2 separate regions of the Homo sapiens genome follow, and region 1 is linked to region 2. Evidence: fine-mapped expression QTL. A gene starts in region 2. The other region holds a variant in brackets. All regions are shown on one strand. Distances are between the middles of the regions. Region 1 overlaps TEAD4 (TEA domain transcription factor 4). Region 2 holds the start of TEAD4 (TEA domain transcription factor 4).

Region 1 (16,074 bases), 58 kb before region 2:
CACGTTCAAGCGATTACTCCTGCCTCAGCCTCTTGAGTAGCTGGGATTACAGGCGTGTGCCACCACGCCTGTCTAATTTTTTTTTTTTTTTTTAAGTAGAGATAGGGTTTCACCATGTTAGTCAAGCTGTTCTTGAACTCCTGGCCTTGTGATCTGCCCGCCTCAGCCTCCCAAAGTGCTGGGATTACAGGCATGAGCCACCGCAACTGGCCCTTCATTCTCTTTCGTTAAATAAGGCTCCTGGTATTAATTAACATTTTAACCATGAACATGCATTGATTTAAAAAGAAGACCAAGTAAAATAAAATACTACTTATTTTTCATTCCAGAACAGGTTAAAACTCAAACTTTAGTATGATCAAGACCTTCCAGAACCTAACTCACTCTCCCAGTTGTCTCCTCTTATTCCCTCTTTACCTACGGCTTCAACTTCACTCCAGAGCCCACTTCCTTCTGCCTTTACTACTCATGCACTCCCAGGCCGCAACAGCCTTTCCCATCTCTGCCAATAGATGTGCCCATCCCTCAGGCCAGGGTCCAACTTCCATTCCGCTGGCAGAGCGCAAATGCTAAGTGTCTTAAAGGTCAGGGGCCCTAGGTCTCAGTTCCAACACTTGCCCCTTCTGGAGACAGCCTGCCCCCATGTTCAGCTGTGGATGAGAGCCAGGCTGGGAGCTGCTCACCGGGAGCCGGCAAGCCATCTGAACGTCTATATAAACTTCGGTGTGAATATGCCTCTTTCTAGGAAAAGTAAAGCTTTGAGATTATGAAAGTGGTCTGGCAGTAAATAAAGGGTAAGAATCTCTGCACAAGAGGCATTGAAAAGAGCGTGAGGAGAGCTGAAGGGGAGTGGGGAAGAGGGATGCGGGCAGAGCCACCCAAGCCTCAGTCCGTGTCCTGAGAATACTGGAGGCCTCAGTCACAGAGCCTGATTTCCTGCCCTTCCTCACCGCTGGCTTCATTAGCACTTACTTGTCTGACTCTCTCCTCGCACCCCTTTTCTGCACACACTGGGCCCCCAGGAAGCTAAGCTCCCAGAGCAGCTACTGTACCTCCCGGCCTCAGACAAGACGTTTCAATGGAGGAGGTTCCACCCACAAAATACCTGCCCGGGGTGAGGTGGGAGGGCAGCAGAGGCCAAGTCTACAGGCTGAGCTATCTGAGAAGCTGGGTGGGTGTTTCTTGTGGGGTGGCCTCGCCCTGGGGCAGAGTCAGCTGGGTGACCCATCCAACACTTCCCTCCCCTTCTCCAAGCTCTGTTCAGCCCAACATGCCTTGGACGCGAGCACCGAAGGACCAGCTCCAGGCCCGGAAACCCATGCAGGACTTGTCATTCAAAGACCTGGGTGACAAGGGCGCTCCTAGTCATGTCTTCACTTATCCCCGCAGGGTCCCGTTTGTCTTTTTCTGGAACTACACCTCCTCACCTCCTGAGGGCTCCACTGTTAGCCCGGCTTAGCTGCCATCCCCACCCGTGAGACAAGGCCTCGTTCGACTAGGCCAGCTCTCTGGGATCACCGCCCCGCTCCTCGGCTCAGCTCCAACCATCCCATAGCCATGCTGGGCTTACTCTCCCCTTCTCACTGGTGCCACCTCCCCAAGTTTCTACTGTGACAAGGGCACACTCTGGGCACTCTCGCCCCGTTCTCACTACCACGGACACGCTGGTGGCAGGAAAGAAGGGGTTATCACAGGCTTACCCAGAACTTCACAAGAAAAAAGGCATTGGAGGGTCCCCGTTCGAAGAGATCCTTGAGTCCACCCTTTTTCTCCGGGAATTTGTCATAGATTTGGCGGATGTCCACGGCTTCGAGGTAGGGGTCGCTGTAGCTTGGGCTGGACTGGCCAATGTGCACGAACAGGTGCTTGTTGTACTGTGGAGAGAGTGGGTCTGAGGGAGACGGAGCACAGGCCAGACGGTCAGACAGACAACCCTGGCTCTGCGTGCCCACCACGTGACCTGGTGCAAGCCGCTTGGCCTTTCTGGGCCATAGTTTCCCCATGAGTAAAATAGAGATGGTAAAAGTCTACTCCTTTTGTTTTACATCCTGGACTTCTAAGTAAAGGTCTATTTGGTTCATGGGTTCCTCAGCTAAAAAGAAGTCTGAGCCGGGTGCGGCGGCTCACACCGGTAATCCCAGCACTTTGGGAGGCCGAAGTGGGTGGATCACTTGAGGTCAGGAGTTCAAGACCAGCCTGGACAACATGGTGAAACCCAGTCTCTACTAAAAATACAAAAATTAGCCAGGTGTGGTGGCAGGCACCTGTAATCCCAGCTACTCCGGAGGCTAAGGCGGGAGAGTCGCTTGAACTCAGGAAGTGGAAGTTGCAGTAAGCTGAGATCATGCCACTGCACTCCCAGCCTGGGTGACAGAGTGAGGCTCTGTCTCAAGAAAAAAAAAAAAAAAAAGAAGTTTGAAGATGTCAGAGTGAGAAGGGCCCTGGCATCCTGTCACCTTGGCCTCCTCCAGGTCCCCCTCTGACCTTTGCAGGTGACGCTGGTCACCCAGGACACTGGACACCGAAGGGGACAGGCTGGTATCCCATAGGATATGGAGCAGACACAGGAGACTCCTCAGCTTCCTGCCCGCTTCTCAGAACCAGAGAGAGGCTGGGACAGTGTAGGGGTGGGGCTGGGACCAGAGCAACCTTGGACTAAGGGTCGGTTGGGTTAGGAGGGGAGGAGGAACACAGGACAGGGAGGGAGGAGCGTGACGCTGACTGGGCGCTGGGACACGGAAAGGAAGCCAGGGAGGAGGGAAAGAGGGAAGAGGGGTGACGTGAAGGAGGAAAGGAGGAGTGGGGGGAAGGGCAGAAGGGAAGATCGGAAAGGAACAGGGAACTTGAATTAAGCCCCAGCATGGAGTGGGGCAAGACTGCCGGAAGCAGAAACAGAGGGAGAGGGGGTGACCAGGGAGCTGGACAGGCAGAGGCCAGGACCTACCGTGTCCGGGTCCTGCTGCTGCTCCAGGAAGGCAGAGAACTCCAACATCCAGAGCTTGGAGCTGGCCACGCTGCGGCCCTGCCATGGGGGTGCCGGGGGCGCAGAGGGCGATGGGGCGGGCCCTGCAGGAGACTCAAACCCTGCACAAAGTGAGAAAGGCACATGGAACCTGGTCACGGACACCCGCCCTGCCCGCACCCTCTGCAAGGACCCCAGGCCTCCTCGGACAGACCCGTGCTGCCTGGGGGGACCGCCTGTCTCCCTAAATGGACCTCCTAGCAGAGGTGGTGGAGGGAGTGCCAGGCTTGGGCCAGGGCATCCTGGAGCTGCCCTGGTGGGGAGGGGCTCGCCTGGTACAACTCGGGCCACTCAGCACTCTGCATGGAACCGCCGAGCAAGACTGGATTCTGGAGGGCAGCTGGGGCCCTGCAGGACCGAGAGGCTTCCAGAACAGGCACTGTTAAGTTCCTGCCCTCAAGCAACTTCTGTTCCAGTCGGGGAAATAACCAGATGAATCCACTATTACAATATGGCATCATCCCGGAGAGACGGGGACGTTTCCTGTTTGCATCACATGTGTCTCCCCCGCTCCCAGAACAGGGCCTGGCCCAGAAGAGCCCCTCAATCCAGCGTTGCTAACAGATGAACCTACTCCAGTCCTACTGTAGTTTAGATCGTGTCCTGAAGGCACCAGGGGGCCAGGAAGGCACCATAAACCTGGAAGCAACACCGTGAGACTGAAGCTCTGGTGAGTGACAGGGTGACGAGAGGAGGTGAGACGGGACAGCGAGCCGGTGGAGAGGCTGCTGCAGGAACGCAGGCAAAAGCCAGCAGGCCTGGAGTGAAGACATGGTCAGTGTGGACAGAAGACTGGCATGAGACAGAGGGTGGACGGGACCTGACGCTGTGACTTTGTTTTGATGTGTGAACGAGAGAAAGCAGCCTTCAGGACCTGGGGGACAGAAGGCAGCAGGGCTGCTCTTGGTGGCAGGGAAAGCCAAGGGGCCGGGCAGGCAGACTCCACACCAGAAAGGGCAGTTTAAGAGTGAGGAGCTGGTCTTGTCCTACAGAGTGGGAGGTGGTGAGGGCCCCTCCTGAGAAAGAGACGAGGACAGAGCAGAGCCTGTCAGTGAGAGGGCGGGGTGGGGGCTCCTGTCAGCACCGCTGGCTGCCTCCACCAGGTCTTCTCCCACAAGGGTCCCTCTTCTCGGGAGGGGCTCCAGGCTGGTGAGCTAGACACCCCTCGGCCCTCCCAGGACCAGGTGTGTGAGGCACACTGCAGTAACAAGGCCGGCCAAGTGGGGCAGCCGCCAGGGCACGGGCACTGCCCTTGGAACTGCACGTGCCCCACAAGCCCTGAGCACAGCTTTGAGGGGACAGGAGCAAGGCAACCCGAGGGGCATGAAGGGGCTTGGCACACGGCTGAGGTGTGCATGCTGGGGGAAAGGAATGGGGTGTGGCCAGGGACTAGGACGTGTGGTCAGTGTGCATGACGGGGCAGCATCTAACAGGGACACGCAGGCGTTCGGCTGCCGGGGGCCTGGACCCAGAGGCAGGAGCCACATGGCTGCGATAGAAAGGGGGCCACGCAGCGCCCACCCACCTGGCAGAGGCAGCGGAGGCTGGACAGCATAGGTTTGCTGAGAGAAAGGCTTCACACTGCGGGAGAGAGAGGAGGGGAGGTGTCAGCCTCGGGCAGGCCACCGCCCCGGATCCCTGCACTGGGTCCAGTGGTCTGTGTGGTAGGTCCTGGTGGTCTGGATTTCAGTGGTCCCGATGGGCCTTGGCCTCCTACTCCCGCCCCTGCCGACTCCCCTGGGTTTCGTGGCGGGTCCACAGACACAGCGTGTCTGCTGAAGAAATCCACCCCTCCCTCTCCTCCTCCCAGGCCAGCCAGAGGTCTGCTTCCCAGCCTCCTCCCCTGGGGGACCCCAGCTCTGGCCCTGCCTATACCCTGGACAGACTGGAGTTTTGGCAAATACCACCCTAGGGTGTAGACATCACAGATGAGCCCAGTGATGGCTGACAGTAGAAGAGCCCAATCCCTGAGCTCAGAGCCATCCTGAAAGGCCGACCCCAGCAGCGGCCCCAGCACACCCTGGGGCCCAGGCTTAATGCCATGAGTTTATGGGTTCAAGTTCAGTTCAGGGAGCAACTGGCAAGAGAAACCAGAGGCCATACTCACTCATGGGACGTTCCGGCTTGGCCTGGCAAAGCTCCTTGCCAAAACTGAGGAGGCAAAAGGCATGGAATCAGCACGGCCCCAGGTGCACCCGGGGCCCTGTGGTGTGGGGGTGGGGGTAGGACCGGGCAGGGCCTCCACTGGGAGGAGAGGCTGGAGCCCGAGGCCTCGCCTAGCTAGTGAATGCTAACAGGCCACAGCAGCACCCCCAGAGTGAGTTTCAGGGGGCTCTCAGGCCCTGTGGAGGAGGGGCTCCATGGGAAAAGCACCCAGGTGTGGTCCACACAGCACAGGGCAACTCCTGCAGAGTCACAGTGCAGACCTAAGGCTCAGAAAAGTCCCAGTGCCAAGAACCCACTTAATGCCAAGGGTCCCAAACTTACTCACAGAACCACTGTGTCCTATCTGTTTAACATGCAGATGGACTAGTGCTCTCTGGGACGCACTTTGAAAAATGCTGTGGCCTGGCACTGCCCCTTCCCCACGTGCCTAGGGCGGTGCTGCAGGTGCCTTGAAGACTCATTTAGTCCCTGGAGCCAAGAAAGCCCCTGTGAGGAGACAGCTCTGAAAAGGGGCCTTTCTGGATCATTCTGAGAGTGTGGCCAACATGGTCATGGCTGGGAAAGTTAAAATCTGACCAGGGGTTTGTTTTTGGGGCACCAGCTCTCCACCTGGCAGGAGGGCAGGAATGAGGCTGCGTGGCACGAGCTGCCCAGGTACATGCTGGTCTCAGGCTTCCGCTCAGCCCCCTTGGCTTCAGCTTCCTCATCTGTAAATTAGGCCAACATGGCAGAGCTACCAGGTGGTCAGCTCCTGGAAGCTCCCCCTTCCCCCTTGTGAAGTCTGTGGAGTCATTGCCGAGGACCCCAAGAAAGCCGTCCCAATACCAGCCAAGCCGGGATGTGTGTGGCCCTTGGGTCCTTGTTCCCTCCTTCCCTGACTGCCCTGGCCAAGAGGACTCAGGTGAGAGAAATCTGGGCTGGCCAATGCTTCTGGCTCTTCTGAACAGGGAGGAGGGAGGAGGAGAGGGCTGGCCTGGCCTCCAGCTCTCGGCAGCCCACTTACCCCTGAGACTGCTGGGCGGCCGGGGCCCCGGGCGAGGGCCATGCTACTGTGGAAGGCCGTGGCGGAGATGATCTGTGCAGACGACATGGCAGCCATGCTCTGCAGGGCCTTGTCCTTAGCTGCCTGGTCCTGGGGGAGACATTGCAAGGGAGGACCTCAGCAGGGTCACTAGTCAGGCTGAGGCCAGGCAGGTCCGGCCCTCGGGTCAGGGAAGCTGTCTCGCTGCCAGTGGCCAGAGCTGGGGGACCAGGCGTTAAGTCTGTGCCGTGCTATTAACTTGTTTTGCAACTGAGAAAGTCAGCTGGTTTCTCTGGTCAGTTTTCTCATCTGTCAAAGGGGCATGATACTTGCCCTGCTTCTTTCATCAGAGCTTACAGAGACATTATCTGTCATTTTATTAATTACGGGGCCACCTTCTATGCCTTGCTCACCTCTCTACCACAGGTGCCTAGCTCAGCACCTGTCTTGTGAAAACGATGCATGAATATCTGCTGGATCCCTCCTCGAGTGCACAGGAAGCATCATCCCTGGCCACACGGGCTGTCTGGAGGCAAGAGACCACCTCCTGTGGCCCCTCCTGCCTCAGTCCTGCCCTAAGGATCTCCCTGGGCACTGTAGGCACCTGGGACTCACCCATCTTTCATGTGTCAGAGTGTAAATACCCACTGTCTGCCCTCCAAAGGTTCCAAGACCCCAGAGGATGGGTTCACCCTGAATAGGCCCGGAACAAATAAGCACACAGGGAAAGCCACTTGGATGGCACGGGTAACAATAGTAATCGTTTGTTATATTCATATAAGCCAGTGGTTTCCATCCTGAGTGCCCGAATTCCAAAGGTCTTCAAAACCAATGACACAACATTCCCTATTTCAAGAAGCCTAATGGAAACTGTGTCTTTTTCTTCTTCTTTTTTTTTTTTTTTCCAGAGACAGGGTCTCACTCTGTCGCACAGGCTAGAGTACTGCACAATCATGGCTCACTACAGCCTCAAACTCCTGGGCTCAAATGATCCACCCATCTCAGCCTCCTGAGTAGCTGGGACCACGGGCATGCGTTACTGTACCCAGCAGGGATTATCCAAAATAAGACCACACACACACGGGCTGGAACAGCAAGTATTATTCACTGTCTGCAGCTTTATCGGGGCTAAATGGCTCGACTGAGTCAACTCAGGGGCTCTGATTAGAAATTTGATACCTGGCCGGAAGTGGTGGTTCATGCCTGTAATCCCAGCTCCTGGAGAGGCTGAGGTTGGTAGATCGCTTGAGCCCAGGAGTTCTAGGCCAGCCTGGGCAACTTGGTGAAACCCTGGCTCTACAAAAAATACAAAAATTAGCCAGGTGTGGTGGTGTGTGCCTGCAGGCCAAGCTACTCAAGGAGCTGAGGTGGGAGGATTGCTTAAACCTGGGAAGCAGGGGCTGCAGTGAGCTGAGATTGCACCACTACACTCCAGCCTGGGCAACGGAGCAAGAATCTGTCTAAATAAATAAATAAATATCTTTATGATGATTATTATTTTTTCAGACAGCATCTCATTAGCCCAGGCTGGCCTCAAACGCCTGGCTTCATGTGATCCTCCTGCCTCGACCTCCCAGTGCTGGATTATAGGCATGAGCCACCGCCCCCACCCATGAATTTTTTTTTAATGACAAAGATAAAACCATTATTGAATAACTAATAATAATTAACTTGGTAGACCTGGATCTCCCTTAAGTGATACAAAGGTTGAGAACCTCCCAACTACTTGGGAGGCTGAGGCAGGAGGATGGCCTCAGCCCAGGAGGTCGAGGCTGCAGTGAGCTGTGACAGCACTACTGCACTCCAGCCTGGGTGACAGAGTGGAGTCTCTAAAACACAAACTAAAAACAGAAGTTGAGAAGCAACGGTGAGCCCTGCAGCTCGCCAGCTCTTCCGAGGGATGCCTCCACGCGGTCCACACGCAGCTCCATGAGGTGGGCAGCACCGCGGCCTGGAGGCTCAGGGAGGCTCAGAGAGGCTCAGTGCTCCCCCGCCATCCTGGTGCCGTGCAGGTGTGAAGCCAGAACACAGCAGGCCCTTCCACTCATCCTCTCAAGGTGACCATTTCACCCATGTGGCATGAGGCAGCCCACGGAAGGTTTTCAAGAACACAACCTCACTGAGTCCTGTGAGACTGACAGGACTTGTAGGATCATTAAGATGAAGAAACTGAGGCTCTGAGAATTTGGGTGACTAGGGTGCTGAGAGTGGTGATGGTGACCAGGTGAGCTTGGACCAGACTGGCACACGGGGGGCCATGCAAACCAAGGGGTCGGGGGAGACGCACCATAGAGGGCGGTGGGGAGTAGGGAACTGTTCCGAGTAGTGGGTCATTGTCGATGTGGACAAAGCAGTGAAATAGATGAGGTTTGTCCCTGGCCCCCCTTGGCCCCCTCCCCACTGTCCTTTTGGGGCCAAACTTGGGCTTTGCTCTCAGAGGCTGTCTCTGATAACCAAAGAGGGAGCTAACTAGTAAGTCTAAGTGTGTGTCTCCTCCCAGGACACTTGGAATTTTCAGGAGGAAAGTGCCCAGGCCAGCCCCTGACCTCTCCCCGCAGGAGGGCATGAGGGACTTGGCAGGCGCACCCTTGCGAGCCCGAAGACCTCGGCACTTAACAACTCCATCACGAGGCCGGGGCTGCATCTACTCAGTGCCTGCCTTCCTGGATACTCGATCTAAACAAACGGCTGGGGCTCAGGAAACCGCG[G/A]CCTGGGCAGGGTGGGGCAGGGGTCAGAGGAAGTGGGAAGGACCCGATGGGGAGTGACAGCAGTAGCCGGGCAATGGAGCCAGGGAGCCACTAACCGGGGCCGGGAGGGGAACTTGGATGTCACCTTGCTCGCCTGTCACTTTACAGATGAGGAAACTGGAGCTCCAGGAGGTCCCAGTGACTCTGCCCAAGCACTCACGGCCACGGGGCAGAGCCAGGCCTAGGACCCAGCCTCTCACTCAGGGATTTCTATTGGATCACTGTCCAACCCAGAGCTTAATCACTTTGGGTTCTAGATCCTTTGAGAATATGACAAAATCCTCACAGCAATCTCTCCAAGGCAACTCACATATACATGAAAATTTGCATATTTTAAGGAGTTTATGGCTCCCCTTGGTGTCTGTCCAGCCATCCACTGAAGGCTGTCCTTGGGCCCCAGGTCAGAACCTGTGGACAAGGACAAGTACAATTCCCTGAAGCAAATGTGGGCCACACAGCCGGCCCCCAAGGGATTGCCCTAAACCCAGTAGTGGGAAGTCTGTTCACCGTGGTCATCTGCAGGGTCCCGGTGAGTCAGAGGCAGACGAAAGAGGGGAAACAGGGAGCAGGGCTGGGTTCCATGGCTGTGGAAGCTGAGGCTGAGAGGCGGGAGCAACAGCTGAGGGCTGGTCAGCTGTCCCAGGGAAAAAGGAGCGAGGTGCCAGGCCACAGCTGTGGGGCTTGGGGAACAGCTGGGCTGATGGCAGGAGGAATGGAACTGAGTGGGCAGTGGGGTGTGGCTTCCTAGGAGGCAGAAAGGTCTGTGGTTCCCACCCACTCGTTCTGAGATTCCAGTGTCAGGATCATGAACTGCCAGGGCCAGAAGGGACTTTCAAGGTCATCTAATTCAGTGGCTTTTCTTTAATATAAAAAATATTTTCAGAGATGGGGTCTCACAATGTTGCCCAGGCTGAAGTGGCCAGTCACAGGTGCAATCACAGCCCACCGCAGCCTCCAACTCCTGGCCTCAACCTCCAAGTACCTGGGATTACAGGCGTGCATGCCCAGCTAGCCCAGTGGCTTTTTTTGAGATGGAGTCTCACTCTGTTGCCCAGACTGGTGTGCAGTGGCACTATCTTGGCTCACTGCAACCTCCACTTCCCAGGTTCAAGTGATTCTCCTGCCTCAGCCTCCCGAGTAGCTGGGATTACAGCTGTGTGCCACCACACCTGGCTAATTTTTATATTTTTAGTAGAGACAGGGTTTCACCATGTTGGCCAGGCTGGTCTTGAACTCCTGACCTCAAGTGATCCGCCCAACTCGGCCTCCCAAAGTGCTTACAGGCGTGAGCCACCGCGCCTGGCCTCCCAGTAGCTTTTAAACTGGATTCTGAGGTCCCCTAGAGTTCAAGTTCCATGGGGTGGGAAAGGATGCGCGGGAGGAGAGGAGCTTTGCCAACCTAGCTTTGACCAGAACGGCTCCTCTGATAACACATCAGGGTGATATTTTGTTGGGGGAAGAAAAGAAAAGGGGCTACATTGCTAAAAAAAAAAAAAAAAAAATGTTTGCAGGCCAGGCCCAGTGGCTCATGCCTATAATTTCAGCACTTTGAGAGGCCAAGGCAGGAAGATCTCTTGAGCCCAGGGGTTTATGACCCGCTCAGGCAAAATAGGGAGACCTCATCTCTATAAAAAAATAGAAAAAAATGGCCGTGCAGTGGCACTTGCCTGTGGTCCCAGATACTCAGGAGGCTGAGGTGGGAGTGTGATTGGAGCTTATGAGGTCGAGGCTGCAGTGAGCTATGACTGCGTCACTGCACTGAGCGTGGGTGACAGAGACAGATCCTGTCTCTAAAAATAAATAAATAAAAATGTTTATAAATGGTCTAGACTTAATGCCTCAAATGTCAGATCTTCCCACCAACTTGCTGTGTAGCCTCTGTCGTCATCACCTCCCTGATGGAGAGCTCACTCCCTCCCAGTGTTCACCCAAAGGCCCCTGGTTCCAGGGTCCCAGAGGCCTGACTCCTGTGGGGAGCAGGGCTACCCCGAGGGGAATGCCAGCAACATCAGGCCCCCCAGAGCCATCACCTATCAGCAGAGGCCCTGCAAGACGGGGCTGACCCAGGGAAGGGAAGGAACACCCAGTCCCACAGGACAGGAAGCAGGAAGGAATTTGCCAGCTCCCACAGTACCATAAACGCCACCCCCACCCCCACAGCAGGCACCCCCCCATGCCCCTGCCACTCCGCATGCTCTGGTCGAGGGCACTGAGGGGCCCTCAAGAAATGAGGGCTGGTGGGTGATCCGGCTGCTCTGAGCCGTGTGAGCCCCTCTAAGCAGGAGCCAGCAAGGGGGGATCCCAGCAGGAGCCTGGCCTGTAGCTCCCAGGGTGTGGGGAGCCAGGCATCCACACACTTGGCCCTCTTGTGCGGATGGGAGAGAGGTTACAGGCCCAACCTGGCTCTCCTCAACAGAGAGAAAAGCACACTGACTTGCACACCAGCAGTGATGCCCTGACCCCAAAGGGAAGATATGCTGCTGGCCACCACTCCTGGCCACTCCAGCACCCCCACTGCAGTTTCCTTACCTTTAGCTTGGCCTGGATCTCGCGAGCTTTGCGACGAGCCAGCACCTGGATGTGGCTGGAGACCTGTGGCAGGGAGAGAGGACTCCTGTCTCTACCTCCCAACAACCTGTGTTCCCCAGCCTGGCTTCCTGACTCTCGCCCTCCACAGCCCTCAACCCACATCTGTGGACCAAATGAATGAATGAATGAAAGGGTCAACTGGTGGGCCCTCAGTCCTGCCTTGCCCAGCTAATCCAGAAACCGGCAGTATTTCAAAAGTGCAGTGCCGGCAGGGAGCAGTGGCTCACACCTGTAATCCCAACACTTTGGGAGGCCAAGGCAGGTGGATCACTTGAGGTCAGGAGTTCGAGACCAGCCTGGCCAACACAGTGAAACTCCATTTCTACTAAAAATACAAAAATTAGCTGGGTGTGGTGGCGCATGCCTGTAATTCCAGCTACTCGGAAGGCTGAGGTAGGAGAATCGCTTGAACCTGGGAAGCGGAGGTTGCAGTGAGTTGAGATTGCGCCACTGCACTCCAGCCTGGGCAACAGAGCAGGACTCTGTCTCAACAACAACAAAAAAGAAAAGTAGTGCCAATGTTTTACTGTCTGTCCTAGTGTCCTGGAGAAGGATGAGATGGGGGCTGATGACTTTCCAGAGAGGCGAGGGGTTTCCTCCTAAGTGATGGCAGCAGGGACCCCAAGAAAACTGGACCACCCGGCCGGGGGTGGTGGCTCACGCCTATAATCCTACCACTTTGGGAGGCCAAGGCGGGTGGATTACATGAGGTCAGGAATTCGAGACCAGCCTGGCCAATGTGGTGAAACCCCGTCTCTACTAAAAATACAAAAAATTAGCCGGGCATTGTGGCGGGTGACTATAACCCCAGCTACTCGGTAGGCTGAGGCAGGAGAATCACTTGAACCCAGGAGGAGAAGGTTGCGGTGAGCCGAGATCACGTCATTGTACTCCAGTCTGGGCAACATGAGTGAAACCCCGTCTCAGAAAAAAGAAAGAAAAAGAAAACTGGACCACCTGTGACACGCCCAACAGGGATAACTCATCCAGAGCTGCCGCCCCTCAAAAGCCTGCGTCTGGTCCTGGGAGGGCCTGGCCCACCTTGGGAGCAGACTGGTGCTGGGGTACCACCCCCGGGACCCCTACCCGTCTCTTGAGGCCCACCTGCTTCCTGGTGCGGGTCTTCCCTGTCCGGAGCTTGATGTAGCGGGCAATCAGCTCGTTCCGACCTGCAGAGACACCAGCAGCCTCTCAGTGGAGAGAAGGACAAAAGGCTGGAAGCAGTGAGGGGGTGCGGGGTACCTTCTGCGGAGGAGCCCTGCCCTCACTCTCTGCCCATCCTAAGCGGATTTGTGGGGTGAGGATTCTGTGGGTTCCCTCTCTGGATCACAGGGATCTCCCAGCAGCGAGAGGAAGACAAGGCCTCACTGTGGGGACTGAAACCCGAGAACAAGGTTAACAGGGCCCGTGGCCACCAACCACGCACAGCCTGAGGAACTTCCAGAGCCTCCCTTGACCCCCGGTACCGTTCCTCACCCAGCGCTGGCGGCCTCCTCTCCTCTCCCCACACTTTCTCCTGGGCCTTCTTCACACTTGGGAGGCTCCAGGGAGCTGCCCGGCCCTCGGCCTTGCCCTGTGTGACTGCCACCGTGCCCTCCGCCTCTGTAAACGAGTAGAAGCGTCCAGACTTCTTGTCCTGTCTGCAGGCAGCAGCGGGCATGGGGGGTGCAACTGCTGGAGACACTTAGTGTCCCTGGAGAGGAGGCCTGAGCCCGTCCGCTCATAAAGAAAAGCCAGTCAGTGCACATGTGCAGCCCCATGGCTGACTCAGACCCCTCAACAAGGAAGGTTGAGCACTCTCCATGGGCCCAGCCCCCGAGGGACTGCTGCTACGCCTGAAGCATCCTGGAAAACCCCAGAGCATCCATGGTTTCCAGTATTGAAAAAGATGATGGAAAGGGGTTCCTTATTTCAAAGCATTACCTAGTTCAGGAGCGGCATGTGCCCACACAATGGAATCCAGGGGTGCTACGGACAGGGACGTGTTCAGAGGACCGGGGGCCAGTTCGGGCTGGGTGGTCAGGCAAGCCCTTGGGTGGCCCTTCACCCCTGGCTAGTGTTAAACCATACGGAGAAGCATCGGATGAGGAGAGGCAGAGCAAGAGGGTTTGAGTGGGGGGATCAGAGGGAGCAGGTGCCAGCCCGCCCTGTGCTGCGGAACCGGGAGGGCTTGCGGCTGTCCGTGGGAGGCAGCTGCTGATGCCCGGGGAGGTGAGGGGAGTGGGCTGCCTGCCACCTGGGTTGTAACCAGAGTGCACGGCCAAGGCCAAGCTGACCCCCCAGCTGACCTTTCCCCAATGCCAAGGCCGAATTACGAGGCTACTCTCCAGAGGTACTGTCTGCCAGAAAAGGTGTGCTGGCCTGGGACCACTGCCTCGTCTGTGTCAGAGGAAGGAGTGGGGGGAGAATCGGAGTCTGGGGACACTGTCTGTGGTCTGATCTGCACCTGAAACCCTGAGTCCACAAGATGTCTCCTCTCAAAGCTTTCTAGGGAAAGGCTTTGGCGGTCCAGTGAACGGTCGACAGTTCTACCCCAGGTCTAACTAAAGCCACCCATGCAGCATCTCGGGTCTAAGTCATCACCGGTGGGTGAATGAAGTAGGGCCACAGACCTGGGAGCTGGTGAGCCAGGCTAGAGCCTGGCAGCTCCACCAATGAGCTTTGGGAGCACGGTAAGTCTCTTCCCTTTAAGGACTTTCACTCAGCCTTCTCTTCTTCTTTATTTTTATTTTTTATTTTTTTTAGACGAAGTCTCGCTCTTGTCCCCCAGGCTGGCGTGCAATGGCACGATCTCGGCTCACTGCAACCTCCGCCTCCCGGGTTCAAGCGATTCTCCTGCCTCAGCCTCCCAAGTAGCTGGGATTACAGGTGCGTACCACCATGCCCAGCTAATTTTTTTGTATTTTAAGTAGAGGCAGAGTTTCACCATGTTGGCCAGGCTGGTCTCGAACTCCTGACCTCAAGTGATCCACCCGCATCAGCCTCCCAAAGTGCTGGGATTACAGGCGTGAGCCACTGCACCCAGCCCAGCCGTCTCTTCTTAAATCTAGTTCCTTTAAGGTTTTTCCCGCAGATTCTTCCAAATTTCTACAGATGTAGGAAACAGACCTCAACGCTGGCTCAGTGAGAACACTCTGTGGCTCAGTATCCTTTTCGGTAAAATGAACATGCTCTAGGCCCAAGTAAGTAACCCAGCTCAGAGACTAGTCTACGGGCAAGGAAAAGCATGAGGGAAGAAGAGAGGTTCCCAAGAGCTGCGAAGTGGGTGACGGTGTAGCAGGAGGGATGGGGATGGCAGACCATCTGGGATACGGTTCTTGGTTGCTCCTCTGGCCCGTCCCTTGCACACAGGATATCGTGTGCTCATCAGTTATCCATGTCTGTCTTTCCTTGTTAGACTCTCAACAGCTCAGAGGAAGAGACTATGCCTCCATTCAAGTCTGCATCTCCAGTACCTGGCACCTACTCACTGAATGAATGAATGAGTCTGGTGTGGCTCTACCTCCAAAACATATCCAGAATTCATACAGCCACTGTGCACCACCGCACCCTCCAGGGTCCAAGCTCCCGCCATCTCTGACTTGGATTAGGATCATCACCTTCCACCTGTATTCCCTGCTCCAAGTCTATGCTCAACACAGCAGCTGCAGCGACCCTATCGAAATTCAAAAGCCCTCCAATGGCTTCCATCTGCCCCAGATTAACAGTGTCCAAGTCCTTACAACGGCCTGGAAACCCCTGCAGGATCTGGCCACCCCAGTTCAGTCACCTCTCTGATCTAGTCTACCCGATCCATCCTAAACTTCTTGCTGTCCTGAAACACACCAGGCCCACACCTGCCCCACTATGGTCCTTGTGCTTCCTGTTTCTCCTCCAGGGAACACTCTGCCCCAGAGTCCCACACCACCTGCACCCCTTGGGTGCCACTGTCTCTTCCCTGACCACCCCACTGAGGGCTGAAATCATACTCCTACCCGCCCACCCTGGCACCCACTGCCTTTACTTTCCTCCACAGCACCTTCTAGCATAATACATAATCTAACTTATTTCAGTACTGTCTGTGCCCTCACCCCCGTCAGAACCACAGTCCATGCGAATAGGGATTTTTGGTCTATTTATTCACTTATTTATACCCACCACCTAGAAAACTGCCTGCACATTGTAGGCGCTCAATAAATACTTGCTGCCTGAATGATGAGGGAATGAATGCTAAGATGCTGGTCAGATGTCCCGTAACTGTTTTAGCCTTCTAAGACAAAGGAGTAAGTTAAATACATGCAAATAACCTTTTACTTCTGATTAGTCCGACGTAACTCTTAAGGCGCTGTCCTATCCTGGTCTCATTGAACTTTTCTGTACATGAGCAAACCCAGACTTTTGTGAGGCCTAAGACATTTAGCAATTGGGAGGCTCCCTTTGGGAAAAAGAATTTTAAAAATACAAAATTAGGTTAAAAACTTGGGGGCAATGGACACATTCATTATCTTGATGGTGGTGATGGCTTCACAGGTGCATACATCTGTCAAAAT
Region 2 (16,074 bases):
TGCTTGATCCTGGGAGGTCAAGGCTGCATAAGCCATGACCGCATCACTGCACTCCATCCTGGGTGACAGAGCAAGACACTGTCTACGATAATAATAATAATGATAATTTAAAAAAATTTATGGCCGGGCGCGGTGGCTCACGCCTGTAATCCCAGCACTTTGGGAGGCCGAGATGGGTGGATCACAAGGTAGAGAGATCAAGACCATCCTGGCTAACATGGTGAAACCCCGTCTCTACTAAAAAATACAAAAAAATTAGGTGGCGGGTGCCTGTAGTCCCAGCTACTGGGGAGGCTGAGGCAGGAGAATGGAGTGAACCCGGGAGGCGGAGCTTGCAGTGAGCCAAGATCACCCCACTGCCCTCCAGCCTGGGCGAAAGAGCGAGACTCCGTCTCAAAAAAAAATTATTACACTGAAATTATTTTTGATAACACTAGGGTTTAAGAAAACACCAACATTAACTTCACTTTTTTTTTTTAAGGTGGCTACTAGAAAATTTTAAATTGGCAGGGTATGATGGCTCACATCTGCAGTTCTAGCACTTTGGGAGGCCAAGGTAGGAGGATTGCTTGAGCCCAGGAGTTTGAGTTCTGCCTGGACAACAAAGCGAGACCCTACCTCCACAAAAAAACTTTACAAATTAGCCAGGTGTGGTGGCGTATACCTGTAGTCCCAGCTACTCAGGTTAAGGCAATGAGGATTGCTTGAGCCCAGGAGTTCAAGGAGTGAGCCATGATTGCACCACTGAACTCCAGCCCGGGTGACAAAGTGAGTCTCTGTCTCAAAAAATAAAAAATCATTAAAAAACAAAATCTAACCAAGAATTGGGCAAGGAATCAATTCTAGGAGTCTGCCATTTCCAGGGTCCCCATCTTGCTTCCTTGAAGAAACAAATCAAGACAGCATGTGTTGTCTCTCCTACTCCTACCCTCCTTCCAGGTCCTGGCAGTGGTTCTGGGGTCACTCCTACACCTTCTCTTGGGACCCCAAAGCCTATCTGTGAGAATCCGGCAACCTGAACTCAGGCAAAGCAGCTTGTGTGGCCTGACTCACAATTCTCTCAGGGTAAGCTGTGGCCTCCTCACAAAGTCTGGTCGACCCTTACAAAGATGGAGGCAAGACAAGAGTCCTCCGCCTCCAGAACGTTCCACCCACTGTCTCGCTCTGCCTGCGGCTAAAGAAATCCCCCATGGCCAGGCGCACGGTGGTTCACGCCTGTAATCCCAGCACTCTGGGAGGCCGAGGCGGGTGGATCACCTGAGGTTGGGAGTTCGAGACCAGCCTGGCCAACATGGAAATACCCTGTCTCTGTTAAAAATACAAAAAAAAAAAAAAAAAAATTAGCCAGGTGTGGTGGCAGGCACCTGTAATCCCAGCTACTCAGGAGGCTGAGGCAGGAGAATCGCTTGAATCCAGGAGGCAGACGTTGTGGTGTGCCAAGATTGCAGCACTGCACTCCAGCCTGGGCAACAAAAGCAAAACTCCGTCTCAAAAAAAAAAAAAAAGAAAGAAAGAAATCCCTCACGTTGTCCAGCGACCCCAGCCTGGGGACTCCCTGTCCAGAGCTTTGCCCACAACCCAAGATCGCCGTTCCAGCCACAACTGCCCAAGGCTCACAGCCAAGGTGGAGACCAGCCAGGGAGCAACAACACCAGCCTTTTATCCCAGCCAGGATGATTCGCAAAGACATCTCAGGGGCTTGAGGGGAAGGGGAAGACCAAGTCCTGGCAGGGGCGAGCGTGGCACGAGCGGAGGCTGGCAAACACGAGCCCTGTGCTAGTAAGAGCCGAAAGCTCAGCACAGAACCGGCACGGAGCTCTAGCTTCACACTGAGTCAACGGCCCCCTTTGGAGGAGGGCCCCACCCCAGAGGCCCACCCTATGTGTCATCAGCCCCTCCCCAGCGCCCTCTGCACTGCCCCCAACCCTCTACCGGATATGCAATCCCATCCCCCAGGAGGGTCACCCCTGGCTCTGCACAGTTCCCATTTCCTGCCCCTGGTGACTCCTCTGAAGTCTATTGTTCCCATGAAGTTTGGGTCAAAGGAAGCAGAGTCCCCACCCATGGGGGCCCGCCTGCCCACACCAAGCCAAGGAGCCAGCCCCCGCTACAGGGAGCCTGGCCCATCCTCTGGCCCTTCCAGGAGCCCCCCTGTATTAAATGCAGGAGGACGTGGGCATAGATCTTGGAGACCTGAGTTCTAGTGGAAATTTTCCCAAATATCCAGTCCCCACCAGCTAAGGGCCCCAGGGCCAGATCACACAGGTGTGATTAGAATCTCCCAGATAGTAGCGGGAAAAACCAAAAGCAAGGGAAGAACCGTCATCTCAGAAAGCGTCCAGGCAAAAGTGGAATTAGAAGATAGGAGCTGGAGACCGTGTTCTCCCCAGTGACAAAGCCCTGCCCCCACCTCCACCTGGGCCCTCCTGGCTGCTGACAGCCCCCTCACCCCCCTTTACTGGACAGCAGCTGTTCAGCTCCAATTTCAGAGCTTTAAAGGGAGCTGTCGTCCAACCCCGGCCAACAAAGGGTCATGGGGGCAAAGGAAGACAGGCAAGGTAAAGCCACCCTCACAAGCCCTGAATTTCCAACTGCCACTGGACTGACCTCAACTGCAGGAAAGGCAAGGTCCAAAGCTGGGGACCAACGTCCTCCACTTCCACTGGGAAGGAGAAGGAGGAGCCACAGGTTTGGCAACAGGCATTGCTTTGTGACAGTCACCGGGGCAAGACTCCAGAGTGGAAATCAAAGGAGGTTGTGACATTTGCAACCCAGGAGATCTAAAAAGATAGGGAGAACCTTCACCTGCCGGCTCATCAAGGGGAGAGGAGGGTGTGTTTTAAAGACCCGAGGGCCCCTTCCCGACTCCACAGATTCTACAGTGAGATGGCTCCTTCCCCAGAACAGCTATGTGCTTTCTGCCAGGTCGGAGCAGAGTATTTCTGCCTCCTACCAACCTTATCTGAGCGACAAGGCATGGCCCAAGTCAGTCTGCTCCAGCTTCCGCGCCTGTTGGATGAAGGCGGCTAGGGGGAGTAGGGGGTGTACAAGCACTGCAATCCACAGGGCAGGAGACAGAACGCCAAGGGGAGAGCATAGGTTCTAATCCCTGCTCTGCCACTCACCAGGGTTGCGGCATTAAGCAAGTTACTGTCCCTCTAGGAGCATCAGTTTCCCCATCTTTAAAATGGGAGACTTAGGCCAGGCGCAGTGGCTCACGCCTGTAATCCCAGCACTTTGGGAGGCCGAGGCGGATCACCTGAGGTCAGGAGTTCAAGACCAGCATGGCAAACATGGCGAAATCCCGCCTCTACTAAAAATACAAAAAACGGCTGGGAGTGGTGGCTCATGCCTATAATCTCAGCACTTTAGGAGGCCAAGGTGGGCAGATCACCTGAGGTTGGGAGTTGGAGACCAGCCTGACCAACATGGAGAAACTCCGTCTCCACTAAAAATACAAAATTAGTGGGGCACGGTGGCGCACGCCTATAATTCTAGCTACTTGGGAGGCTGAGGCAGGAGAATCGCTTGAACCCGGGAGGCAGAGGTTGTGGTGAGCCGAGATCGCACCATCGCACTCCAGCCTAGGCAACAAGAGCGAAACTCCATCTCAAAAAATATATATATATATTTATATTTATATATATATTTATATATTTATATTTATATATATAAATAAATATATATAAATATATATATATGAAACTAGCCGGCCGGGAGGCTGAGGCAGGAGAATCGCTTGAACCCAGGAGGCGGAGGTTGCAGTGAGCCAAGATCATGCCACTGTACTACTGCCTAGGCGACAGAGCGAGACTCCGTCTCAAAAATAAATAAAATAAAATAAAATAAAAATAAAGTAAAATAAAATAAAATGGGGGACTTAGATGCTGACATTAGGGTATCTAATAATGTTCAGCAAGCTCACCCTGGGGCCAAGGCAAAACTGGAATCAGAAAATAGAAGCTGGCACTCTGTTCTCTGGTGACAAAGCCCTGTCTGTCCCCCTCCCTCCTGACCTGGGCCACTAGGACCCTGGATTCCTAAGGACGCGGAACACAGCGTAGGGCCTGGCTCACAGTAAATGCTCGATTCATGTTTGCTAAATAAACATGATAGACAGGGCAAGGTTTCTCAAATGGTGCTCAGAGAAACACTAATTCAAAAAACACTAATCCCTAGGAAAAAGGGGTTCTTACTGAAATAAGCGAAGGAAACACTGGATACAACAGCTATCCTATGGAGTCCATGGGATGTGCCAGGCACTGTGCTGCTGGGTGGGGGCTCTGCAGACATCGACTTTTCACAAGAAACTTTCTGGACAGAAAAGCTCCGCTCGTATTACCCACCAGGAAACAGCCTGAGAGCCTTAAAGGTAGTGAGAGACTCAGGATTTGTACCCTGGTCTGCCTGACCCCAAACCTGTGCCCTTTCCACTCCATCAGTGCTGCTTTTAGACCAGTCGCACACCAGGCCGAAGAGGTGAGAGGGTGAGGTGTTTCCCACAAGAACATCCACATCCTCAGGATGGATGGAGGAGCAAGGACGAGAACCCCCAACCCCCGAGACAGTTTCTGGCTCCTTCCTTCCAAGAAGCCCTACACATGATATCCACGTTGAAGCCCTCATGCAACAAGCTACTCATTCCTCTTCTCAAAGGAAGTGCTGAGTGTCTGGCAAGTTGGAAAGAATGAGGGATTCTTCTACTGGGTTACCTGGTCAGCTCCGAGGAGAGTTAAACCAGGAAAAGTAGTTCAGGCTGGTATACCTCCCTGTTTGTCCTTGAGGGCAACTTAAAAGCACTATTTACACAAGTCTCCAGATTCAAAACTGTCTCCTTTTCCCGGGGATCCACCCCGACAAACCTTCCCAAATCTCACCCGCCCATCCCATCCCCCAAAGGCAAAGATCTCAACTTCCTTCAGCCTCCTACCAGCTTTTTGACCTATTCCAGGCAAGCACAAGACCCTCGCCCTGAGAAAGTCAGCCTCCTGGCTCCAAGAGGCAGGTGGAGCCAGCTTCCTTCCAGCTCTGCCCGGTCCAGGGGAAACGGAGCCTGGAGGCCACACACTCCAAAACCACAGTCAAATTATCCCTGCACTCAGGCAACCAGAGACACTGACTCTTGCCCACGGCTATGTAGGGAGGAAGAACAGTCCTAGCCAGAACCAACATCCTCGAAGAGAAACACATACTCAAGAGACGTGGCATCACACACCTACTCAGAGATACTCACTTTCAGACAGCCCCTTCTCACGCAGACATATACACACACTCTGTCACTCACGTTCAACACAAACAAATACGCCCACTGGAAGCCAAGGTGAGCCACACGTGAACAGACATCACCCACACAGAGACTCAAAGCGAGGGGGACTCGCAGTCAGGTGTCACACAGACTCAGCACAGACGCAGTCAGTCCGCGGGGCCTCAAGTGCCTCAGCACAACGGGGGAAATGTTCACTTTGGGGTTTGAAAGTTCTGCTCCCTGGATCGATCCACTAGTCCCCATCAGGAAACACAGCAGCTTCCCAAGCCCTGAGGTGTAGGACCTTTTGCAGGGGTCCCCCGACTTTCGCATCGCCTTTGCACTTAAAACAGGCAGTCCGCTTACCTCCAGGTCTCTCCCTTCCAGGCTCGAAAAGGGCCCAGCAGAAAAGAGGCATGGGTGCTGGGTCTCTTCTGTTGCCGATGCTCTCGGTTCTGCCTCTCCGGTCCTTTCCACACCGGCCTCCCTTTCCCCCAAAGTCCCGAGTGTCCACCCCCCTTACCCGCCCCTGGAGCCGCTTCGCCTCCAGCAGCCTCAGTCGCGCCGCCTCCACGTGCCTCGCTCTTCCCAGTCTCGTCCCGGGAGGGAGCTCCGCACGCACCGCGCAGACTCCTGCCCTCCGGCAAAGTCCTACCAAGTCCCCGCGCCCCAGCCTTACCGGTCCCAGGGTGCGGGAAGGTGGGATGGGTGCGCTAAGCCAGTTCCAAGGAGTCCGCCCCGAGCGCCAACTCTTCCGGCCGCGGCGATCGTTCTGCGGGGACGACAGGGCGTCAGCGCGCAGAGCCGGGCTCCGGCCGGGGCCGACGGGCGGCGCAGTGAAGGCGGGGCCGCGGGGCCAAGCCCACCCCGCGCCGACCGGCCCCGGTGCGCCCAGCGGAGCGGAGCGGAGCGCGCGGAGGGAGGAGTTTTCCCAGAATGGGACTGACGGGAAAACACGGGGATCCCTATTCCTGGAGGAGTGAGTCAACCGGGAGCGAGGAGGGGAGCGCGGGGCGGACAGGAGGGAAGCGGGAGAGGGGCAGCGAGCAGCGCCGGAGCGCGGAGGGAAGCCAGAGGTCGGGACGGAGCGCGTCGGAGCGCAGAGGTCCAAGGCGGGAACGCGGGCGGCGGAAAGAAAAGAGCAGCCGAGCACGCGGCGCGAGCGGTCGGCTGCGGCGGCGTGGGGCGCGCGGCCCGTGAGGGCGCCGGCGGGTGCGGCGGGCGCGGGCGCCTCTCACCTGGCGGGACGCGGCGGCGCCGGAGCTGCGGCCCTCCCGCCCCCTGGCCTCGAGTGTGCGAGGAGGACGCTGGAATGCGCGGAATGAGGGCTGGAATGAGATGCGCGCCGCGGCGGGAGGGAGGGAGCCGGAGGGAGTGGCGGCGGGGCCACCGGCACCTCGGGGAGGAGACTGCGCCGCGCGCGGGCGGGCGAGGGGCCGGGCCGCCGGGGCGGGGCGGGGCCGGGCCGGGCCGGGGCGGGCGGCGGGGGAGGGGGCCGAGGGACGGCGGGGACCCCTCCACCCGGGCCTCGGCTGCGGCCCCCACGCCCACTAGCCCTTCGATCTCTCCGCTCCGACTGTTTGGCTGCTCGTTGCGCGCCCCGCGCCCTCCCCTCCTGGCGGGGTCCCGACTCCCTTTCCCAGGAGCCGAGAGCCTTCCTCTTCGCCGGGGTGGGGCTGTCCCGGGGGCGGGGGGGTGGACGGGGCCCAGACTCCCGCCCCGCCACCCGGCGTCCCTCCGCACGAGTCCCTGGGAGGCCGGGGAAGGGGCGGGCTCCCGGCGCGCAGGAAGGGCTGCTCCCTTCCTGCGGCTCCCACCAAAGGACACTTGCTCCGGGGAACCAGGAAGCAGGAACTCGCGGGCTCCATTCCCAGATCCGCTGCCAGTGCCCCCTCGCTTGCCCTCCCCGGCTTTAGCTCTTTCCGTTTTTCTCTCCTGCCCCTTGGGCATCTGTAAAACCGCCACTACGAGTAAACCACATGGGAGAAAGGGCACTCGGTTTGAAGTCCATGTGGCATGCCATGGGACGCCTTCTGGGCTCAGTGACTCAATGAATATTCATCTAAGATGTGTGATGAGTCCAGATACTGTGAAGATCAGGATCAGCCGTCAGCACCTGCCCTCAAAGAGCTCAGAGTTTAGCTGGGGAGGCCTCGGTGTATACTGCCATCGGTGAGAGTCTGGACTTCAGACACACATGCCCAGGAGTCTCTTATTGGGGCAGGAGGTGCTGGAAACACGCTGGGCTCCTTGTTTGGAGACGCTTAGGACAAACGGGCTTAAAGCAGTGTGCTGGCAGGTAGCGCCATCATCTACCTGGCCAGGAGACTGAAACCAAAGGACTTTTGGCTTTTTCCAAAAATCAAATCCAACCTTTTCTGGGGCATTATCACTTAGCCTTGTGTTGGGTGGTTGTCTAGATCTTATCTCCCTTGCCAAACAGAAACTTCCTTGAAGACAGAGTAATGTCTGATTTATCTTATCTTTCACACAGATCCAGCCTGGTGCCTGGGATAGGGAAGTGCATGATAAATGCTGCATAAATGAAAAACAATTGCTACCGTGGAAGATATTGAAAGGAAAGTGCTATCGATGCCAAAGTTGTTTCCAAGAGAGGTATTCCAAAAGTGTTTCAAGCAATGACTGAGCTAAGCATCCAGTCCTGCAAGGTGAAGGCGTTGAAGACGCAGCCCTCATTTGAATAGATGAATTGTGGTATTCTTGTTAAATAATGAATCATATCAAGGCTTGGTCACACCTCATGCACATGAAAAGACCAAAACGCAAGGCAGCATATCAGCGCCACGTGAAGTACACACTAAGCACCAACTATTTAATTCAGCAATCATGGGGGGCCCGGTGGCTCACGCCTGTCATCTTAGCAATTTGGGAGGCCGAGGCAGGTGGATCGCTTGAGCCCAGGAGTTCGAGATCAGCCTGGGCATCATGGTGGCCTGCACCTGTAGTCCCAGCTACTCAGGAGGCTGAGGTGGGAGGATAGTTTGACCCCAGAAAGTTGAGGCTGCAGTGAGCCGTGAATGCACCACTACACACCAGCCTGGATGACAGAGCGAAACCCTGTCTCAAAGTAATTAATAATAATTATATTAATTCAGCAATCATTGGAGTGTTTGTTGACTTTGACACCGCACTAAGGGAAGGAGTAGGTCCCTTTCCTCAAGTAGTTCCAGTCTAGGTGAGAAGACAGACAATTATGCAAAGTTCAATGGGAACCCAAGGGAAGGAACAGTGAAATCCAATTACAGTGCATTTGATCTAGCTCTTGAGGATAAATGAGGGTTTGCCAAACTGAGACTGGAAACCCCATTTAAGACACATGGAATAGCACCTACAAAGGTGAGGCAGCCAGTCTGCTGGTGTGTTTAGCGAAGCTATGTAAACTGGTGTGGCTGGAGAATAGAGATGTGGATAATAAGATTGAAGGAAGTGGATACCAGACTTTGAAGGTCATTGCGTGCCATGCTGAAGAGTTAGGCATCAAAAAAGACACAAGTGTGACTTAATCAGCAGCACCATCAAGAAGACCGTCTTGCAACAGTCTTGCAGTTGAACTGGAGACTCGGGGTGCCCTAAAACTCAAGCAGTGGTCCTGAGGTTGAGGAGGAGGGGAAGGAGCTAGGAAACGGTTCAGATCATTTGGCTGTGTAGTGAGAGAGAAAACAAAAATCGCTAACCTTTAACAGCTGAACAATGGTTGGTGTCAGTAAGTGAGATAAGAATTCAGGGCTGGGCACAGTGGCTCATACCTGTAATCCCAGCACTTTGGGAGGCTGAGGTGGGTGGATCACGAGGTCAGGAGTTCCAGACCAGCCTGACCAACATGGAGAAACCCCATCTCTACTAAAAATACAATATTAGCTGGGCGTGGTGGTGCATGCCTGTAATCCCAGCTACTCGGGAGGCTGAGGCAGGAGAATCACTTGAACCCAGGAGGTGGAGGTTGCAGTGAGCTGAGATCACGACATTGCACTGCAGCCTGGGCAAAAAGAATGAAACTCCGTCTCAAAAAAAAAAAAAAGAAAGAAAGAAATTCAAGCAAAAGGGGAGTGGGGTGAGGTCGGAGGGGAATCCAGCCAGGTTCAGGGGACGGAGAGGAAAGCAGGACAGAGTCCAGAGTAGAAACAGGAAAGCAACCCTAGTGTCACGGTTAGGGTAGACTGCTGACAACGAACTTGGAGATCTTTATTCCCTCTAAGTCTTAACTATCCAAGACCATCAGTGATCCAAGCTGGGAAGGTGTGTCTTCAGGATCTTGACTTTCTGGCCCATACCCTTATAGTCTCCTGGAGAGCTCTGGAGCTTTGGGGACCTCAGGCTTGGAGCTGTTGAGGAATGTCTAGGTAAAGGAAAGTTAACAGATGTACAAATTCTGAAGAGTTAAAGGCAAGGTGATTTTACCCACACATCAGCCCTTCCCAGGGATGTTTACATTTCTTAAGGGACAGGACCCTAATTCACTGACCCTCAGGAATGAGTCTTTTGGTGGAAATATTTCAGCTGTCTGGATCCTACAAATGGATCCTCACTCAAGCTTGATGATGGACTGTGCAGGAGGAGGAGAGTAAGGGTGTGGGCAGGGCTGGGTGGTTTCATGTAGGGGTATTTGTGTTGGCTATATTCCAAAGTCAAAGTTAAAAATCAATTAATTGGGCACAGTGGCTCACATCAGTAATCCCAGTACTTTGGGAGGCCGAGGTTGGAGGATCTCTTCAGCCCAGGAGTTTGAGACCAGCCTGAGCAATATAATGAGACCTTACCTCTACCAAATAAATAAATAAATAAAAATTAGCTGGGCATAGTAGCACACACCTCTGGTCCCAGCTACTTGGGAGGCTGAAGTGGGAGGCTTGTTTGAGCTCGGGAGGTCAAGGCTGCAGTGAGTCGTGACCTCGCCACTGCATTCCAGCCTGGGCGACAGAGCAAGACGTTGTCTCAGAAAAAATAAATAAAATAATATAAAATAAACCAGACACATTCATGATATAAGTGGAAAAGCAGATTCTAAAAATTATATATAGGGGCTGGGCATGGTGGCTCACACCTGTAATTCCAGCACTTTGGGAGGCTGAGACAGGCGGATCACCTGAGGTCAGGAGTTCGAGACCAGCCTTGCCAACATGGTGAAACCCCATCTCTACTAAAAATACAAAAAATTAGCCAGGCGCGATGGCACGCGCCTTTAGTCCCAGCAACTTGGGAGGCTGAGGCAGGAGAATCACTTGAACACAGGAGGTGGAGGTGGCAGTGAGCCTAAATCGCACCGTTGCACTCCAGCCTGGGCAGCAAGAGTGAAACTCCATTTCAAAAAATAAATAAATAGCTGGGCGTGGTGGCTGACACCTGTAATCCCAGCACTTTGGGAGGCTGAGGCGGGCGGATCACCTGAGGTTGAGAGTTCGAGACCAGCCTGACCAACGTGGAGAAACCCCGTCTCTACTAAAAATAGAAAATTAGCCGGGCGTGGTGGCGCATGCCTGTAATCCCAGCTACTCAGGAGGCTGAGACAGGAGAATTGCTTGAACGCTGGAGGCAGAGGTTGCGGTGAGCAGAGATTGCGCCATTGCACTCTAGCCTGGGCAGCAAGAGCGAAACTCCGTCTCCAAAAAATAAAATAAAATAAATAAATAAATAAAAACTATATATCAGATGACCCTGTTTTTGAAAAAAGTTGAAAAAGTATTTTAAAGGGATTATTTCTGAAAGTTTGCAAATTAAGGGGATCTAGTTTCTTGTTTTTATTCTTTTTTTTTTTTTTTTTAAGACAGAATTTTGCTTTCGTCGCCCAGGCTGGAGTGCAATGGCACAATCTTGGCTCACTGCAACGTGCGCCTCCCAGGTTCAAGCAATTCTCCTGCCTCAGCCTCCCCAGTAGCTGGGATTACAGGCATGCACCACTGCACCCAGCCCTATTCTTTCTTTTCTTTTCTTTTTTTTTTGAGACGGAGTCTCGCTCTGCTGCCCCGGCTGGAGTGCAGTGACGCCATCTCGGCTCACTGCAAGCTCTGCCTACTGGGTTCACGCCATTCTCCTGCCTCAGCCTCCTGAGTAGCTGGGACTACAGGCGCCCGCCACAACGCCGGGCTGATTTTTTGTATTTTTTAGTAGAGACGGGGTTTCATCTTGTTAGCCAGGATGGTCTCAATCTCCTGACCTCGTGATCCACCCGCCTCGGCCTCCCAAAGTGCTGGGATTACAGGCGTGAGCCACAGCGCCCGGCCTCCTATTCTTTATTTTCTGTAACAAACTTGTAGTTTATAATCAGGGACAAATGTGACTAGAACTATATATCTAACCCTTCCCTAATTTCTCCACATCTTTAAAAAACAAAACCCTTTACACATATGAAAATATCACATTGTGGTGCTTGCCTGGGCAGCACATATACTAAAATTGGATACTGATACAGAGAAGATTAGCATGGCCCCGAGCTCACAAATTCGTGAAGTCTTCCATTAAAAAAAAAAAAAAAAAAAAAAGGCCAGGCGCGGTGGCTCACGCCTGTAATCCCAGTACTTTGGGAGGCCAAGGCGGGCGGATCACGAGGTCAGGAGATCGAGACTATCCTGGCTAACACGGTGAAACCCCGTCTCTACTAAAAATACAAAAAATTAGCCGGGCGTGGTGGCAGGCGCCTGTGGTCCCAGCTACTCGGGAGGCTGAGACAGGAGAATGGTGTGAACCCGGGAGGCGGAGCTTGCAGTGAGCCGAGATGGCACCACTGCAGTCCGGCCTGGGCAACAGAGTGAGACTCCATCTCAAAAAAAAAAAAAAAAGGCTGGGCGTGGTGGCACACGCCTGTAATCCTAGCACTTTGGGAGGCTGAGGCAGGCGGATGACGAGGTAAGAGATCAAGACCATCCTGGCCAACATGGTGAAACCCCGTCTCTACTAAAAATACAAAAATTAGCTGGGCGTGGTGGCACGCACCTGTATTCCCAGGTACTTGGAAGGCTGAGGCAGGAGAATCGCTTGAACCTGGGAGGCGGAGGTTGCAGTGAGCCGAGATCACACCACTGCACTACAGCCCTGGCGACAGAGCAAGGCTCCGTCTCAAAAAAAAAAAATGTGGCCAGGCACGGTGGCTCAAGTCTGTAATCCTAGCACTTTGGGAGGCCAAGGTGGGCAGATCATCTGAGGTCAGGAGTTCGAGACTAGCGTGGCCAACCATGGAACCCAGGAGGCAGAGTGAGCCGAGATTGTGCCACTGCCCTCCAGCCTGGGCGACAGAGCGAGACTTCGTCTCAAAAAAAAAAAATGCACATTGTACACCATAAATATATACAATTTTTATTTGTTAACTATACCTCAATAAAGCTGGTGGTGGTAGCAAAGAGATTATATAGGATTAGAAGAACTCAATGAATAGGTTCTGAGTAAACGCCACCATGTAAGTCTTCTAGACTTCTTATCGATCCACTCATTATCCTACATATTTGTTTCAACTATTGCTGACTGCCAGTTTACAACTCTAGAAACTTTTTTCCCCAGTAAATCAAACCATTCCCACCAAACAAACAACTGACAGCTGGATTGAATGGCCTAATAGGAAACTGACAGAGTAAAGAGAGATTGTTTCCTAGCTTTTAGGTGAAAGGCAAATATTTTTCTTTTTTTTTTTATTTTTGAGACAGTGTCTCGCTCTGTTGCCCAGGCTGCAGTGCAGTGGTGCAATCAGGGCTCACGGCAGTCTTCACTCCCTGGGCTCAAGTGATTCTCCCACCCTAGCCTCCCAAGTAGCTGAGACTACAGGTGTGCACCACTTCACTTGACTAATTAAAAAAATTTTTCTTTGTAAAGACAAGATTGCCCTATATGCTCAAGCTGGTCTCAAACTCCTGGCCTCAAGCCATCTTCCTGCCTTGGACCTCCTAAGTGTTGGGATTACTGGTGTGAGCCACTGTGCCGGGCCACATCTTGCTTTGGAGATTTCCCCAAAGCTGCTCCCCATACCTTGGAAAGTATTATGCAATGACTCCTGCTGGTCAGCTGTGACTCAGGTGCTTTTTCTTTTTTAACCTCTCCATCCTATATTTATTTATTTATTTATGTTTTTTTTTTTTTTAGTAGAGATGGGGTTTTGCCATCTTGGCCAGGCTGGTCTTGAACTCCTGGCCTCAAGTGATCCGCCCACCTTGGCCTCCCAAAGTCCTAGGATTACAGGTGTGAGCCACTGCACCCGGCCCATCCTATACTTTTATTTACTTTTTTCCTTAAGAGAATGTTCACTTGACATCAGCTGAACTTCATTTTGTGCTTTGAAGGACAAAACAGACCATTTCCTGTTTTTTGTTTTGTTTCTTTTTTTTTCTTTTTTTTTTTTTGAGACGGAGTCTCGCTCTGTCACCCAGGCTGGAGTGCAGTGGCGCGATCTTGGCTGACTACAACCTCCACCTTCCGGGTTCAAGCGATTCTCCTGCCTCAGCCTCCCAAGTAGCTGGGATTACAGGCGCCCGCCACCACACCCAGCTAATTTTTTGTATTTTTAGTACAGACGGGTTTCACCATGTTAGCCAGGATGGTCTCGATCTCCTGACCTTGTGATCTGCCCGTCTCGGCCTCCCAAAGTGCTGGGATTCCAGGCGTAAGCCACCGCGTCCAGCCTGTTTTGTTTCTTTGAGCGAGAGCTCTGTCTCCCAGGCTGCAGTACAGTGGCGCGATCTCGGCTCACTGCAACCTCCACCTCCCGAGTTCAAGCGATTCCCCTGCCTCAGCCTCTCTAGTAGCTGGGATTACAGGCTCTCGCCACCATGCCCAGCTAATTTTTGTATTTTTAGTAGAGATGAGGTTTTGCCATGTTGGCCAGGCTGGTCTCAAAACTCCTGACCTCAGGTGATCCACCTGCCTTGGCCTCCCAAAGTTCTGGGATTACAGGCTCTTGCCATCACGCCCAGCTAAATTTTGTATTTTTAGTAGAGACGGGTTTCACCATGTTGGCCAGGATGGTCTCGATCTCTTGACCTCATGATCTGCCCACCTCGGCCTCCCAGAGTGCTGGGATTACAGGCGTGAGCCACTGCGCCTGGCCTTGTTTTGTTTTGAGACTGAGTCTCGCTCTGTCACCCAGGCTGGAGTGCAGTGGCAGGATCATGGTTCACTGCAGCCTGGACCTCCCGGGCTCAAGCTATCCTCTCACCTAGGCAAAACGGATCTTTATCAAAGGTTTTTTTTTTGTTTTTGTTTTTGTTTTCCCCAACTGTCTATAGAATAAAAGTAGTCAATAATTTGATAAGCATACTATTCATTCTATTATGTCTTCATGAAAGGCAAATGTAGGCCAGGCGGAATGGCTCACAACTGTAATCCCAACATTTTGGGAAGCTGCAGCAGGAGGATCACTTGAGGCGAGGAGTTCGAGACCAGCCCACGCAACATAGGGAGACTCCATCCCTACAAAAAATAAAAACAAAATTATCCGGGTGTCGTGGCATGTGCCTGTAGTCCCAGCTACTTGGGAGGCTGAGGTGGGAAAATTGCTTGAGTCTGGGAGGTCGAGGCTGCAGTGAGCCATGATTGTATCACTGCACTCCCACCTGGCAATAGAGCAAGACCCTGTCTCAAAAAAAAAAAAAAAAGAAATGTGAAAGAGAACAGACCCTAGGTCCACTGTCTAGGGAACAGTATATGCTGTGGGCTAAATTGTTTCCCTCCAAATTTGTGTGTTGAGGTCCAAACCCCTAGTACCTCAGAACGTGACTGTGTTGGAGATAAGGCCTTTAAAGAGGTGACTAAATTAGCAAGAGGTCATTAGGGTGGTCCATAATCTAGTGTAACTGGTGTCCTCATGAAAGAGATGAGGACACAGAACACTCAGACCAAGGGATGACCATGTGAGGACACAGGGGGAGAAAAGGAGAAAGGTCTCAGAAGAGACCACACCTGCCAGCACCAGCATCCTCCACTTCCAGCCTCCAGAATTGTAAGAAATGCATTTCTGTTGTCTGTGGATTTTGTTATGGCAGTCCAGGCTGACTAATTCAGTGTATTTATATTTCCAAACTGAAACAAACAACAGGTTTCCATTGCACAGAGGTGGAAGCCTTCTCTGCACAATTCTCAAGCAGGGTGAAGTTCCTACGGGGTCTTATCCTCAGCTATCCAGGAGCTTCCTGAAAAAAAGTCAAAAGGAAGGAAAGGCTTTCTCCAATCTCGCTCAGCTAAAATCTTCATCTTCAGTAATCCTGTTTGATAAAATATTCTGAAAATGAGAGTGCACTAAGTTGTGTGCGATGACCTTGTCGGGCCGTTAAACAGTCAGAGTTTAAATTCCAGCTTGGCCACCTACTAAGTGAGCCTCGGTTCCTCATCACTCATTTTTTCACTCCACATTTATTGAATGTGTGGAAAACAGAGGAGTCATGATGTCTGCCTCTCAGGCTGCTACGAGTGGAACACAGGAGCAGAATTGCTAAGAAGATAGTTAGCTTGGGAACCTGAAGTTGAGATTTCTGTAGACCAACTAACATTTTCCAACACAGCTTTCTGTGATGATGAAAATGTTCTCGGCCGGGCACAGTGGAGCATGCCTGTAATCCCAGCTACTTGGGTGGCTGAGGCACGAGAAGTCCTTAAACCCGGGAGGCAAAGGTTGAAGTGAGCTGAGATCACGTCACGGCACTCCAGCCTGGACAACAGAATGACACTGTGTCTCAAAACAACAACAAAACAGTTGGGCACCGTGGCTCATGCCTGTAATCCCGGCACATTGAGAGACTGAGGCAGGTGAATCACGTGAGGTCAGAGGTTCGAGACCAGCCTGGCCAACATGGCAAAAACCTGTCTCTACTAAAAATACAAAAATCACCCGGGCG

The links. PIP is the estimated chance that this variant, and not a neighbour inherited with it, causes the effect.
Region 1: its variant is fine-mapped to the expression of TEAD4 in lung (TOPMed, PIP above 0.99). The same link has a PIP of 0.9 or more in subcutaneous fat.

Annotation. Positions count from the first base shown.
Region 1 is chr12:3,007,644-3,023,717 of GRCh38, reverse strand. It overlaps TEAD4 (TEA domain transcription factor 4), which reads right to left. Exons shown (of 13, transcript NM_003213.4): 4 at 12,650-12,714; 5 at 11,486-11,548; 6 at 6,192-6,320; 7 at 5,130-5,173; 8 at 4,548-4,603; 9 at 2,945-3,084; 10 at 1,701-1,874. Among named protein-coding and RNA genes, the nearest start is that of TEAD4, 56 kb to the right of the region's middle. RefSeq lists an enhancer at 9,241-10,082. The variant G/A (reference allele first, on the strand shown) is at 8,918.
Region 2 is chr12:2,949,891-2,965,964 of GRCh38, reverse strand. TEAD4 (TEA domain transcription factor 4) reads right to left here and starts at 6,568. Exons shown (of 13, transcript NM_003213.4): 1 at 6,484-6,568; 2 at 5,925-6,017. It overlaps LOC124902859 (a long non-coding RNA gene), which reads left to right and starts at 5,917. Exons shown (of 2, transcript XR_007063159.1): 1 at 5,917-6,224; 2 at 7,740-8,367. It also overlaps the pseudogene RNU6-1315P. RefSeq lists enhancers at 1,207-2,032, 5,663-6,398.